Linked DNA regions of Homo sapiens. The protein of the gene in region 2 interacts with the protein of the main gene of each other region in a pairwise test. Each region holds a gene or a part of one and is shown on either strand. Other genes may lie near its edges.

The links.
Region 1: the proteins of LEPROTL1 (region 2) and PAQR8 interact in binary tests that used the Homo sapiens proteins (3 or more experiments, as listed by UniProt).

Annotation. Positions count from the first base shown.
Region 1 is NC_000006.12:52,357,965-52,365,153, reverse strand, and holds the start of PAQR8 (membrane progestin receptor beta), read right to left. Parts: upstream 3,004-7,189; 5' UTR 2,905-3,003; intron 1-2,904. UniProt on the Homo sapiens protein: Plasma membrane progesterone (P4) receptor coupled to G proteins. Seems to act through a G(i) mediated pathway. May be involved in oocyte maturation. Also binds dehydroepiandrosterone (DHEA), pregnanolone, pregnenolone and allopregnanolone.
Region 2 is NC_000008.11:30,098,392-30,105,412, forward strand, and holds part of LEPROTL1 (leptin receptor overlapping transcript-like 1), read left to right. Parts: intron 1-3,506; coding exon 3,507-3,582; intron 3,583-5,908; coding exon 5,909-6,095; intron 6,096-7,021. UniProt on the Homo sapiens protein: Negatively regulates growth hormone (GH) receptor cell surface expression in liver. May play a role in liver resistance to GH during periods of reduced nutrient availability.

The sequences.
Region 1 (7,189 bases), on a different chromosome or scaffold from region 2:
TGGGTACCTTTTTTTTTTTGGTGAGACAACAAGTCTTTTGTATTTTTGTTTTGCTTTCTGTAAAAATCCACAATGACAGAGACTGCCTAGTAACAAGTATCAGGAGGGGCAAAGAAAGGCTTACTTTTTCTAGCCCAATAAGCCATAAGCTATAACAATAAAGTGACAGGACCAATTACTTTACATACATACCAGAGCATAAACACCAAAATGAAGGTTGTGCTTCAAAGTAGTTAAGTTTTTGAGGAGTTAAATGTTGTACTCAAAATTTCCACTGTGGAGATGATGGGAGCCCCTAACCCCGGTGTTATTCAGGGACCAACTGTAATTCCTTCCAATCCTAAATACATACTCCATGCCATTACTAAATGCCCCTTTTAGAACTGCCAGTCTTTCAAGAGAATTTTCATTACTTTAATGAGCATACTTATTGACAACCTCGATTCCCCACCTCGGAAGCCCAAGTTGGCCCCGCACAGTGCCTGGCTGTTTCCCAGCTGAGGAAGGTTTGCCACCACTGAGGCAATCAGGAAATGTGTTGCAAACTCGGAAGGCAACTCCAAAGCAGGAGCTCCAAAATTATTCTCAGTAGTGACAGCATCACTAGAATTAGTACACAGCTTGCCAAGAGCAGGCTTTTGAAGGGGAGAAATACTGATTTGAATGTATAAATACTGGCATATTTATTTTAACATTTGGATAAAGAATTGGAAGCATCAGCAAGTGTTACGTCCAAGTGAATAAGTACACTGCTGCAGGAATGATAGTGCAGATTTTGATGCAAGGTCCTGACCACTCAATAAGGTATACACACACCCTTAATGGAAATATGCTTATCCTGAAATGATTCTTGTAAAATGAATAAATCGCTTTCTATCCTGTTAACTTGCATAATTATTAAAGATTTCCTTTTCATGAATTAAAAACAGACCCAACAAATGCTAGTTGCCAAAATAATCCTTGTTTATCCAATGAAGCTCAAATCTCAGTGTGTGTCAGAAGATGGACCTATATGCACCAGAAGGAAATCTGGTGCATACACACACCCGCAAAAAAAAAAAAAAAAAAAACATATCTTTCAATGGATATATCCACTTAATAAGATTCCTCTACTCTGGGTCTTCCAGAATTGGTTGTTACGCCAAATAACTGAAATAATTACCATACATAATTAACAATACAAGATGGGTTAATGTAAGATAGTCAACATTTAACTAATAATTGAAGGACACGCACCCAAGGACAAACAGCAGAAATAAAAAACAAAAACAAAAACAAAGCCATGCCTTGGTCCTTTGTTTTTAGATACACACTTGGATACTCATCCACTGAGGTCCTAAGCAGTCTGGCTCCCTTCCAGTTGACCTGGTCAAGGGTGCAGCAGCTCAGGGCTGGGTACACGTTGTGGATAACCTTAACAGGGCAGTCAAGGGCAGTCTACCTTCCATGCAGGCAACTCCTATTAACTTCAGTAACAGGAGTCTTCACTGACAAGCAAATACTCCCAAACTGTACAATACTCTCATGTTTAACTCGACTGGAATGCAGTGCGTTTGTGGACATTGTTTGGTGTGTGTATTTGTTGTGGATTTTCCTCGTTTTTACCCAGAAACAGCTTCTCAGAGTACTGGAACAAGTAGTACACACGTGGGTCTAAAAATCACACATACAGTGTATTGTATGAGTTATCCCTAAGGCGCGCACACACACGGGTAGGTATTACCTGTACATTTGAAATCTCACTCCATAACTAATTTTTTTAGCCCAGGCTCTTCTCATTGGGTTCCTGGACAAAATCATTTCTAACCCAGCTAAGAAATATGGAATGCAACTTAGGTCAAGACAATGAGCCTGCCAAGGCTCCTGGACTTCCCACTAGTCTGCCAGTGCCTGGAGCACCCACAGCTGCACAGGAAGCTGCTGTGCCCGGCTACCTCCAGGTCCCCGCACCGGGTCGGCAAGGTGCAGCAGCCCCCAAACCCAGGCTCCGAATATTCCCCAAGCGCGCTGAGTGCGAGGTCCCCACCCGCCTCCGTCTGGGGATGCCCGGTCTTGCTCCCTAGACTAGATTCCCTCTCGAGTTATCTACGACCCTGTTCCACCGAGGGCGCTGCGTTCTCATAGCCTAGACAGACGTTCCCAGCGTTCCAGCCCCACCAGCCACCTCCGACACCCCACCGCGGCGTTCCCATCCAGCCAAGCCCCAGCATCCGCCCATTAGCCAGCTGCCGGCGGTTCCCATCACAACTCCGCTCCTCGCGCCCACCCTCTCAGAGAAGCCCCCTCCATCTTTCCCCGGCGAAAGCACATGCCTAGACCCACCCTACTCTTTCCGGGGTTCCCCTACCTCGGGCTGCCCTTCCTCGGGCTCTCCCTACCGCCCCGGGCTTCCTCTCCTCCGCACTCCCCTCCCAGGTTCCGTTCCCCTCCGCCCTGCGGAGGGCGCCCCACAAATGCGGACAGGACGCCCCTCGTTCTGCCCTGTCGGACTCCCCCACGTCTTGGTCCTGAATCTCCCGCCCTCCGGGCTCAGCCTTCCCAACATCGCGGTCCCCACACCCCCGCCAGCTCTCCAGGCTCAGGCTCCATGACTCCCCAGCATCGCAGTCCTGGCCACCCCACTACAGCCGTTCAGAGCTCCAGGGCTCCCCAGCATCCTAACCCGTCGTCCCCCCTTCCGGGCTTGGATTCGGAGACTCAACATCGGGGCCCTAAACTCCGGCCCCTGGCCTCAGGTTCCCAACGCTGCGACTCTGGACCTCCCCTCTGAGCTCGGGGTGCGAGGACTCCCCAACGCCGCGATCCTGACGTCCCCGCCTCCCGAGCTCGGGCCCCGGGGCTCCCCGACCTCGCGGTCCCAATACCCAACTCGACCCGTTCCGCGCCTCCCGCGGCGGGACTCACCGGCAGGGGCGGCGGCCGAGCCCGTGCGCGTAGCCCAGCCCGGCCCAGCCCGCGCTCCCGCCTCGGGGTCCCGGCCACGAGCTTCCCGCGGGTGGCTGTGACCGCGGCGGGCTCGGCTCGGGGGAGCGGCCGGGAGGAGGAGACCGCCGGGGGCGGGTGACGCCCAGCTCCGCCCCTTCCCGACCCGGGGGCGGGATGCGCAGACCCGCGCGCTCCGCTGCAGCCCGCGCCGCTGCCGCCGCTGCGAGGAAGTTGACTGACGCCGCTTCCTTCCACCCAGGACGCAGACCCTCGCAGTCCCTGGTAGCTGCAAAAAATCCGGAGAGTTTGAGACAGAGACGCCTTAACCGCCCTCATATTCTTTCCAAGAATTCACCTCTCAGGGGGCCATTTCCGAAGTCCCTCGGGAAGGGCGGAAAACAATAACAAACTTCATCTGCGCTGTCAAGACTGATTTAAATCCTGGCCTTTCTCTCACCACTCTCGGGTGAACGTTCAGGGTCATGCCCATGATATAAATAATGTGATGACATACCACGGAGGCCCTTGCAGACACTTCCACACCCCTAAGATACACCCGCCCAAGACTCGCGCCTCTCCCATGACTACATCACACAGACACATCTGACACTGACCTGCAGAAGATCCCACTTCTACCCTGTGTCCTCAATCCACAGCCTTCGTGGGTCCCAGCAATAGCGACCCACACATACAATCTATTGGAGGCAGGGTGCGGGGGTGGGTTCCACCTCCCGACTTGCTCCTCACCCACAATGTTCTCGGTATTTTACCATGAGAAAAAGACAGTTAAGAAGTTGGATGATCAATTAACAAATCAAGTTGGCTTTGCTTTTAAAAAGCCTTCTTCATTATCTGGAGAAAAGAGAAGGCCTGGGAAGATGGCCTGCTTACTGTAAGATTTTGTCAGACAGGCCTAATTCTGGTCTGCTTACTGTAAGATTTTCTCAGACGGCCTAATTCTGGTCTGCTTACTGTAAGATTTTCTCAGGCCTAATTCTGGTCTGCTGGTTCCCAAAACTTCTCTTATACCACCGTGTTTCAGTGACATGTTGCACAACATCTCACATTTGTACAATGTTTCCATTTTTCAAAACATTTTAGCCGAGTGTGATGGTTCACACCTGTAATCCCAGAACTTTGGGAAGCCAAAGTGGGCAGATTGCTTAAGCCCAGGAGTTCGAGACCAGCCTGGGTAACAAGGTGAGACCCTGTCTCTGCAAAAAATACAAAAATTAGATGGGCGTGGTGGCACACGCCTGTAGTCCCAGCTACTTATTCTCAGGCAAACATCACGAAGCAAAGAAAGTAATCTTAGCAGGATTATTTCAGTTCCATAAATGAAGACATTTAGACTCTGAGCAGTTGCACGGCAGGTTTGAAGCTGAGTCAGAGCCAGGAAAGAGCCCAGGGGCCTGTCTTTAGAGCCACTGATCTCCCCAGGGAATCATAGTCCAGCACTTACTTATAGGTGGATACTAGTGGAAATGTCACAGGAGGTCTTTGGCAGCTTTGCTCCCTCCATCTCTTCTTCACCCCAAAGATGTCAGGGAACTCTCCCTTAACCTCAAAAACCCGGGCTCTCCTTTATCGTCAAAAACCTATGATAGGCCAGAGGTCACAACCGTACAAGAGGGCTTATTGAGAGGGAGTGAAAACTCCTTCCACTTTGGGCCACTCTAGAAACAAAATTACAGGTTAGCACATCTAAAAGCCTATCCACAGCCTTCATCCAACTAACGTGAGCTGTCAGCCGGGAGCTGATGAGCCTCCGAAATGCATTGCTGATTATTTTTGCAGTGTTTTTCTCCCTAACAGTTAATCCATGTGGAATGTGAAGAAGTCTTAAAAGGAGACTAACAAGGCTTCTAATTCTTTCTCAATGGTAAATGTTCCTTTCTTCTTGCCCTTTATCCAAAAGGCAGATGTGAACGTGCATGTAAAGTGTAATGGGTGTCAGGCATTGTTATCTGTGCATGAGGCAGTTCTGTTTCCAAGTGACGCTGTCCAGAGCCACTAAATAAGAATGGTGGTTCTCATCCTTCATGCCTTTTAAAACTACCTTGGTCTCAAGCTAGCTTCTTTTATTTTCTACTGTGAGGTAATGGCCTACTTCCGTTTGGGCAGTAAAAGTGATGTTTTGGTAACACTGGAAAAAGTCCTAGGGTGACCTGGCTATTTTTGAATTATAATAAAAGCCTGTTGGGTCCTTCATAAAAGACAGTTAGGATGGCCTTTGGTATATGGAAATTCACAGCCAACTTTCCTCTATGTAATAATCCCATCTGGCAACACAATTTTGACCTGAGATTTTTCCAAAACCTGGAAACAGCCAAGATCTTGGGTACTGCAGTATTTCCTCAATAAGGAGAATGCTAAACTGCGAATCCAATCAACACGTATCAGACCTAGTTCCCTTTCAGATTGCCCTTGAAAGCCACAGACACAGGCAGTATGCAAAATGATGAAAAAATAGATAAGATTAAAGAGTTATTTTTGTCCGAATCTCTAATAAAATAATTTGATCTATTTTACATTGGATACATACCACATTGACACTGTTTTTATAAACACTCTACTTTGTGTTTACATATCACTTTTCCAAGAAGCTCAAAGTATGTTTGATGACATCATATTACTCAACTTCATACACTTATATGAAGTAGGAAAGGGGTAAAAACTGGTAGTCTTATTGTAACATGGAGAAATGGAAGTGTGAAATAGTTAAAACCACTTGCCTGGAACATTCTGGTATATATACTGGTTTATACTAAAAGTAGACCTGTTTGTGAAAACTGCTACAGTGAAGAGTTATTTAAAAGCTGTACTATTTTTGTTTTCTTTTTATATCTTATGAAAGGACTGAGGACTATTAATTTCTTCACTATCTTGTCAGAGAAAAGGAGAGGCACTTTGCATAGTGGTTAAAAGTGTGGCCTTGGGAGTAAGAGCCTTCAGTAGGTAACTTAACTTTTCTTCTTCCTTTTTTTTTTTTTTTTTGGAGACAGTCTCACTCTGTCGCCCAGGCTGGAGTGCAGTGGCATGATCTCGGCTCACTGCAACCTTGGCCTCTCGGGGTTTTTTTTAAGTAATTCTTGTGCCTCAGCCTCTCAGGTATCGGGAATTACAGGCACACACCACCACGCCCAGCTAATTTTTTGTATTTTTAGTAGAGATGCCGTTTTGCCATGTTGGTCCCAAAGTGCTGGGATTACAGGCATGAGGCACCATGCCTGGCCAGTAACTTAACTTTTCTATACTTCAGAATCCTTATCTCTAACACAAAAATAATAATTGTACCCACATATCTTATAATGAAGGCCTGATTAAATGGGTGAAAAGACAATGACTTCATTTAAGTGGGTTTTTTTTTTTGAGACGGAGTTTCGCTCTTGTCGCCCAGGTTGGAGTGTGATGGCGCAATCTCGGCTCACTACAACCTCCACCTCCCGGGTTCAAGCAATTCTCCTGCCTCAGCCTCCTGAGTAGCTGGGATTACAGGTGCCCACCACCACACCCTGCTATTTTTTTGTATTTTTAGTAGAGACAGGGGTTTCGCCATGTTGGGCAGGCTGGTCTCGAACTCCTGACCTCAGGTGATCTGCCCTCTTCAGCCTCCCAAAGTGCTGGGATTACAGGCGTGAGCCACCGTGCCCAGCTTAGGTGGTTGTTTATGGGATCTTTGTTTCAATGCTTTCTACTTGCAGAAAAGATATACTATCCCAGTGGACTACATAGGAAGAATTTGGGGAAACTTGAATGTCTGTATTTTTTTACCGTGAAGTCAAATCCATCATTCCTTGACATTCCATGATCAGATAGCCATCCATACTTAGTTTTTCTATTTAGATCCCCTGCCAAATGGCCAACTGGGAAAAGTAACCATGATACTAATTTCACATACAGGATGCTAAAGAACTGTGGTTAGTCAGATTAAAAATAAAAATCATGATTTTCTTGTACTGTCTGTCTATTTTATCCATTTAATGGTGGAATGGTAGGGGCTCACTAAAGCTAATTTGATTTTCATTAGGAATTGCTCATGCCATTTTTTCCTTTTTGTTTACTTTTAATAATAACAATTCAGGGAGCAAATAAATTAACCCATGTAGACAAAAAAGAGATGTAGAAATTGCTCCTGGGCCCTCCGTAAGCCCTGGGCACATGTGAGGTTTTGAGGCCTTATATCTGATCTCTCATTCTCTAATGTAACTAGTTCCTAGTTGAAGAGTTTCAGATGGCAAACTATAAGAATAAATGATAAAAG
Region 2 (7,021 bases):
AATGAGTTAGTATAAATAAGAACTTAAGGGTCTGTTTATAGAGAATGTTGGCTTTAGTATATGGGCTTTGTAACATCTATTTTGTCTCTTTTTAGTGGCCTTTGTTTTCTCCAGGATTCTAAGTTGCGTATAAATGGCTTCTGAATGAATGAGGTGTTACTAGGTAGTATTTATAGTAATGGACTTAGCTGTCTTAACAGTACCTTTAGTGTTCAGAAAATTATCTGCATTTAAGATCTAGTCCAACTGTCATTTTAGAGAAGGAAGAACTGAGACTCATAAATTACTTGGACAACTAGTTAGTAACTATTAGGGCCTTGGACCCTCCAGAGTCTCAGTTCCATGCTGCTTCCACTCTGCTACATTCATTCCACAAATATTTGTTGAGTGTTAAGAGCCAGGCACGATCATCACAACAGAAAAACTTGCTCCCTCCTTTCGTGAAATGGACAGTTGAGAAGGAAAGACAAAATACAAACCAGTAGGAAATCGCAGCTGATAATTGAGCAAAGGAGAGGCATTCAGTGAACAGAGGACCTCAGCATACACGGGTCTCTGCCAGGAATACTCATCCCAAATACCCACATGATTTCCTCCCTCCCCTCATACAGATCTTTGCTCAGGTGGTGCTTCATCAGAGATGCCTTCCCTGGCCACTGTATCTAGACTAGCACTCCCATCCCTTACTCTACCTGACGTTTGTCATCACTTGACATTTATTCACTTGCTTATTAAAAATCATTTTCTTCTCCCACTAGAACGTGAGAGCAAAAGCTTTGATTGTTGTCATTGCTCTGTCTCCAGTAGCAAGAACAGTATCTGACACACGTTAGGTGCTCCATAGATGTTTGTTAGAGGAATGAATAAATAAATATAACAGGGAATTGGTCTAATCAGGAGGTTTGGAAAAACTTCACTGAGGCCAGGTGCAGTGGCTCACGCCTATAATCCCAGCACTTTGGGAGGCCAAGGTGGGCAGATCGTGAGGTCAAGAGATGGAGACCATCCTGGCCAATGTGGTGAAACCCCGTCTCTACTAAAAATACAAAAAAAAAAAAAATTAGCTAGGCATGGTGGTGCACAGCTGTAGTCCCAGCTACTCAGAAAGGCTGAGGCAGGAGGATGGCTTGAACCTGGGAGGCGGAGGTTGCAGTGAGTCAAGATCGCGCCACTGCACTCCATCCTGGCGACAGCGCAAGACTCCATTTAAAAAAAAAAAAAAAAAAAAAAAAAACCAGCAAAAAAACACTTCACTGGTTGAGCTGAGATCTGAAGGAAAAGCAGGAGTTAAGTTGGAGGAAAGTAGAGAGGAGTGGGAAAGGACCATGCCTCATTCACTGTTGTATCCCTAGTGCTTGTCACATATTTAGTGCTCAGTGAATATTTCTTGAATGAAAAAATGTCTGAGGCAGAAGGGACAAAGTGTGCACAGGCCACGTGAGTGAGCAAGTCTGCTGATTTCCAGGAAAGGAAAGAGGGCCAGTATAACTGAAGTGAGGGTTCAGGGACACTGTAGTAGCCTGGTGTGACACGTCACAGGAGAGGTGGGCAGGGCCCGGTCATGAGAACCAATTTGGAACTGAAGAAAACAAATGGTAAATTCAGTGTTTTCCTTACAGTTTATATTGCATTCCCCTGTAAACTTGAAGTGCCTCGTTTGCTGTAAAGTAAAAATGCAATTCTTTTCCTGTAGCTGGAAATAGAATGGTATTCAGGACTAAGTGATGTGTTCGGGGTTGCCATGACCTGCATCAGCGATCTAACCAAAAACCAAATCTGCCAAGCCACTATGTCATGGGGTGTCCTTGATTATGACTGTTTTAGTTGTGCAGAGTATATCAGTAGTACTTGGCAAAGTTTAACTTGTTTCCTGTTCATTTTGGTTTCTCTATGTTAGCCTTTGTTTTGGTAACTTTTAGACCTTCTACAAATCTTTCGAATTTTAACTTTTGAATTTTAATAAAATGACCTAACAACAACAAAACTAGTTATTTTCTTAGCCACTGTAACTGTAGAAATACAGGTTATATAGAACTCAAAATAAATTTATCATTTACTTATTTATTTATTTTTTTTGAGATGGAGTCTTGCTCTGTCGCACAGGCTGGAATGCAAAGGCGCAGTCTAGGCTCACTGCAACCTACGCCTCCCGGGTTCAAGCAATTCTCCTGCCTCAGCCTCCCAAGTAGCTGGGACTACAGGCATGTGCCACCACACCCAGCTAATTTTTTGTATTCTTAGTAGAGACAAGGTTTCACCATACTGACCAGGCTGGTCTCAAACCCCCAACCTCATGATCCGCCCGCCTTGGCCTCCCAAAGTGCTGGGATTACAGGCGTGAGCCACTGCACTCGGCTATCATTTATTTCTTTGCTTTAGTCTAGGTCATTGGTTAACTATGCCTATTCAAGAAAGTTGTTTCTATTCACTAACGTGAGAGCACCTTAAAATGTACTGCTGTGTGTGTGTGTGTGTGTCTGTGTGTGCGCGCGTAGCTTTAGAAACTATATTTCACCTGTAGAATGCATCTATTGCTTATAATAACATGTTAAAGTAGTGATACCTCAGAAGGATTATAACCCATTGTCCTACAGATTTTCTAATGTAGATTAGGGAAGGAAACCCAGCTCTACTTTTGCAAACTATTTAAAGATTTGCAACAAAATTAATTGATTAAAATCATTAACTACAGATATTCTCGGGCATTTTTTCTGGTCAGTTTTATGCACATTGAGAGTGTATGTGCCAGAAACAGGAGCTGATTAGAAGAGGTTTTCCTATAGGATGAGGTTTCTAAAGTCCAGTAAACTTGAGCATGTGGAGTTTCTCCACATACTGCTTTTCAAAACTGTAGTGATCTGTGAAGTAAATATAATTCTAATGCCCAGAAGAGCATTGAGCCTGTGGACTTTGACTCTTTAGAAAGGGAACCAGCGTCTGGGGAATATGGTGGGGTACTAGCAGTAGGTTAGAGCTTTAAAAATCGGTGTCACTGGCTGGATGTGGTGGCTCACGCCTGTAATCCCAGCACTTTGGGAGGCCAAGGCAGGTGGATCACCTGAGGTCGGGAGTTCGAGACCAGCCTGACCAACATGGAGAAACTCCATCTCTACTGAAAATAGAAAATTAACAGGATGTGGTAGTGCATTCCTGTAATCCCAGCTTACTCAGGAGGCTGAGGCAGGAGAATCACTTGAACCTGGGAGGTGGAGGTTGTGGTGAGCCGAGATCAAGCCATTGGACTCCAGCCTGGGCAACAAGAGTGAAACTCCATCTCACAAAAAAAAAAAAAAAAAAAAAAAAGGCCAGTGTCACTTCATTTTGCCTTGAAGATACCACAGAAGACTTATTCTAAGACTAGATAACTTACACTTCTGATGGCAACTTGCTATTAATACGTTTTAGGGATTTTTGCTTCTGAGGTTACAGATAATGTTCAGACTGCTGATATTAATAAAAATAATATTTAATTTATATTCCTGTTGCACTTTTTATTTGCTTTGCAGCTTTGATTAGTTTGTCCTTTGGAGGAGCAATCGGACTGATGTTTTTGATGCTTGGATGTGCCCTTCCAATATACAAGTATGTAAAATGTTTGTCTTTCTGAATATTTAAGGGTAAAATTTTTCTACTTTTAAAGCTTAAAAAAATGTTTTTTTACTACTGTAAAAGTAATGCAGAGAAATGTTCACTTACCAAACACATACCTTTGTAAAAATCACCACTTAAAGTTTGTTTCTAAAGATTTTAGGACACCAAGATGCAAATAATATTTTTGGCTGTTACCTGCTCTTTCACTACTGCTGAGTCTGCAGTGGCAAGATAGCTACACAGTACCTCAGCCCTCCTGCTCAGTTTTTAACATCTATTGATAATACTAATTACAAGAAAATTTAAAATGTCTTTTTGCAAAAAAATACCATAAGCAGTCAAAACACAATTAAAAAAAAAGAGAGAGATGTAAACAATTACTTTCCGGCCGGGTGCGGTGGCTCACACCTGTAATCCCAGCATTTTGGGAGACCAAGGCGGGAGGATTGCCTGAGGTCAGGAGTTCAAGACCAGCCTGGCTAACATGGTGAAACCCCATCTCTACTAAAAATACAAAAAAATAGCCAGGCGTGGTGACACATGCCTGTAGTCCCAGGTACTCGGGAGGCTGAGGCAGGAGAATCGCCTGAACCCAGGAGATGGAGGTTGCGGTGAGCCAAGATCACGCCACTGCACTCCAGCCTGGGTGATAGAGCAAGACTCTGTTTCCAAAAAAAAAAAAAAAATTTCTTTCCTTAGGATAGAAAGAACTTCTCAAAGTTAACATTTTAACATTTAGATAAATTAGAAAAAGATGGACAACTCAATAGAAAAATAAATACAAAAAGAGAACTACAAATTGCTAATAAGCACATAAAAATATCCCCAGCCTCACTCAAAACTAAACAAAATCTATTGACAAAGACAAGAGACAGGGCAAGCAGGGACTCTTTTGTGCTGTGGGGGGAGTACACATAGATAGTTTTCTTGGAGATAAGTTTGCTTGTAGCTCTCAAAGTATATATTCTTTGAGTTAGCCCTTTCACTTGTTAGACTTTCTGATACAAACCCACTTGCAGATGTTTACAAAGATATATTTAGTGGGGGAGAGTATGGATGTTCAAGCAGCCTTGTTTATTTTTTGGTTTTTGTTTTTGTTTTGTTGTTTTATGCGTTATTTATAAGAGCCAAAAAAAATTCTGAAAACATCCTAAATGTCCTTCAAAAGAAAAATGGTTAAATTATAGTAAATCTTTTAATGGAAATACTAGGCAGTCTTAAAAAGAATGAGGAAGAGCTGTAAGTGCTAACATGTAAATATGTTCAAGACATATTGTTAGAAAACTGCAGGGACCCATTCATATTTTAAAGTTTATGTGGAAATGTGGAAGGGTCCCTGAGAAGCTCAATAGGAAAGTGGGCAAGAGGAGATTTGGAACTTTTAGTCTTTACTTTTTGTGCTTTTGTACTGTTTGAATTATTTTTCTTAAGCATATATTCAATTTTTAATTTTTTTTCTTAAAATATTTAGGAAATGGTCAGGCGCAGTGGCTCATGCCTGTAATCCTAGCACTTTGGGAGGCCAAGGTGGGTGGATCACCTGAGGTCAGGAGTTTAAGACCAGCTTAGCCAACATGGTGAAACTCCATCTCCACTAAAAATACAAAAATTAGCCGGGCATGGTGGTGCACGCCTGTAATCCCAGCTAGTCACGGGGGCTGAGGCAGGAGAGTCACTTGAACCCAGGAGGCAGAAGTTGCAGTGAGCCGAGATCATGCCACTGCACTCCAGCCTGGGCAGCAGAGCGAGACTCTGTCTCAAAAAAAAAAAAAAAAAATTTAGGAAACATAAGTAGCTGCTTATCATTAGCCTCTGTACAATCAGATCTCCACCATGATACCTATTTTATTCTATGGTAGTTTTAAGGGCATCTATTTCTTTTTAACTTTTTATTTTGAAACAATTTTAGATTCTGAAGAAGTTGTGAAAATCATACACAGAGGTCCCCTGTACCCTCCACACAGCCTGCCAGAGTCATAAGATCTTACATAACCATAGTTATCAAAACCAGGAAATGACTGTGGTACAATACAGTTAACTAGATGTAGAGTAAAAGCCATCTATTTTTATTGTGATAAATTCTATATTCTGACTGAAAGTGTTCTTACTTTTAGCTTCTTTTCTGTATTTTGATTTCTGTAATTTGGGAGTTCCTCGTGTTGTAAGGGAAGTTTAGGGTTGTTTCAGCTTTATGCTAAGGTTGGGTATCATCCATTAGAAGTCAAGCGATTGAATCTTGATTTTTTAAAAAGACCATATTTTGTGTGTAGGAAAATGACATAGCAAAAATTACATTAACTTATTTTTCTTTTTCTAGCAAATACTGGCCCCTCTTTGTTCTATTTTTTTACATCCTTTCACCTATTCCATACTGCATAGCAAGAAGATTAGTGGATGATACAGATGCTATGAGTAACGCTTGTAAGGAACTTGCCATCTTTCTTACAACGGGCATTGTCGTGTCAGCTTTTGGACTCCCTATTGTATTTGCCAGAGCACATCTGGTAAGTGAATATATTCTTCCATTAATGATTTTATATTGAACATGTGTTACATTTTTCTCAAGCAAAGTTTTTGTTAATGACATGAAAAGAGGTGAAAGACATAAGAGCCTAGAAGATAGAGATTAAAATCTCACTTTATTGTTTGTTCTTGTTAACTAATAAAAGTGATATTGGAGAACGTGGCTTGGATCTGCAGCAGCTGTTGGCTTGCTAATACTTTTTTTTTTCTTTTTTTTTTTTTTTTGAGATGGAGTCTTGCTCTGTCGCCCAGCCTGGAGTGCAGTGGCGTGATCTCACCTCACTGCAAGCTCTGCCTCCCGGGTTCACGCCATTCTCCTGCCTCAGCCTCCCGAGTAGCTGGGACTACAGGTGCCCGCCACCACGCCCAGCTGATATTTTTTGTGTTTTTAGTGGAGACGAGGTTTCACCGTGTTAGCCAGAATGGTCTCGACCTCCTGACCTCGTGATCCGTCCGCCTCGGCCTCCCAAAGTGCTGGGATTACAGGCATGAGCCACCGCACCCGTCTGGCTTGCTAATACTTAACTGTCAGAGTTGAGCATATCAACTCCCCCAGTGCTGAACAACCCAGGCCTATCCTGTAAAACCTAAAATATGGAAGACCTGAGAAGGTGCATGTGCTCTGCAGGCAGAAAAGCACTGAAGAGGGGAAGGGGCTGGCTACGGGTACTCAGTTCTTCCTCCCAAACTCACTGATCCACGCGCCTTCATCTCTGGGGAGGTAGAGAAGACAGCCATATGGAGAAGGCAATTGTTTTCCCACCCCTTCAAAAGAATGTACATGGGTGTGTTTCCATCTGTGATATGCTAAAATTTAATCTACTCTAGATAGATTTTTATATTAAGGAAGAGTAAGCACATTCCTTTATAAACAGAAACTTGTAGAATTTTATGCTGCTTCTTCATA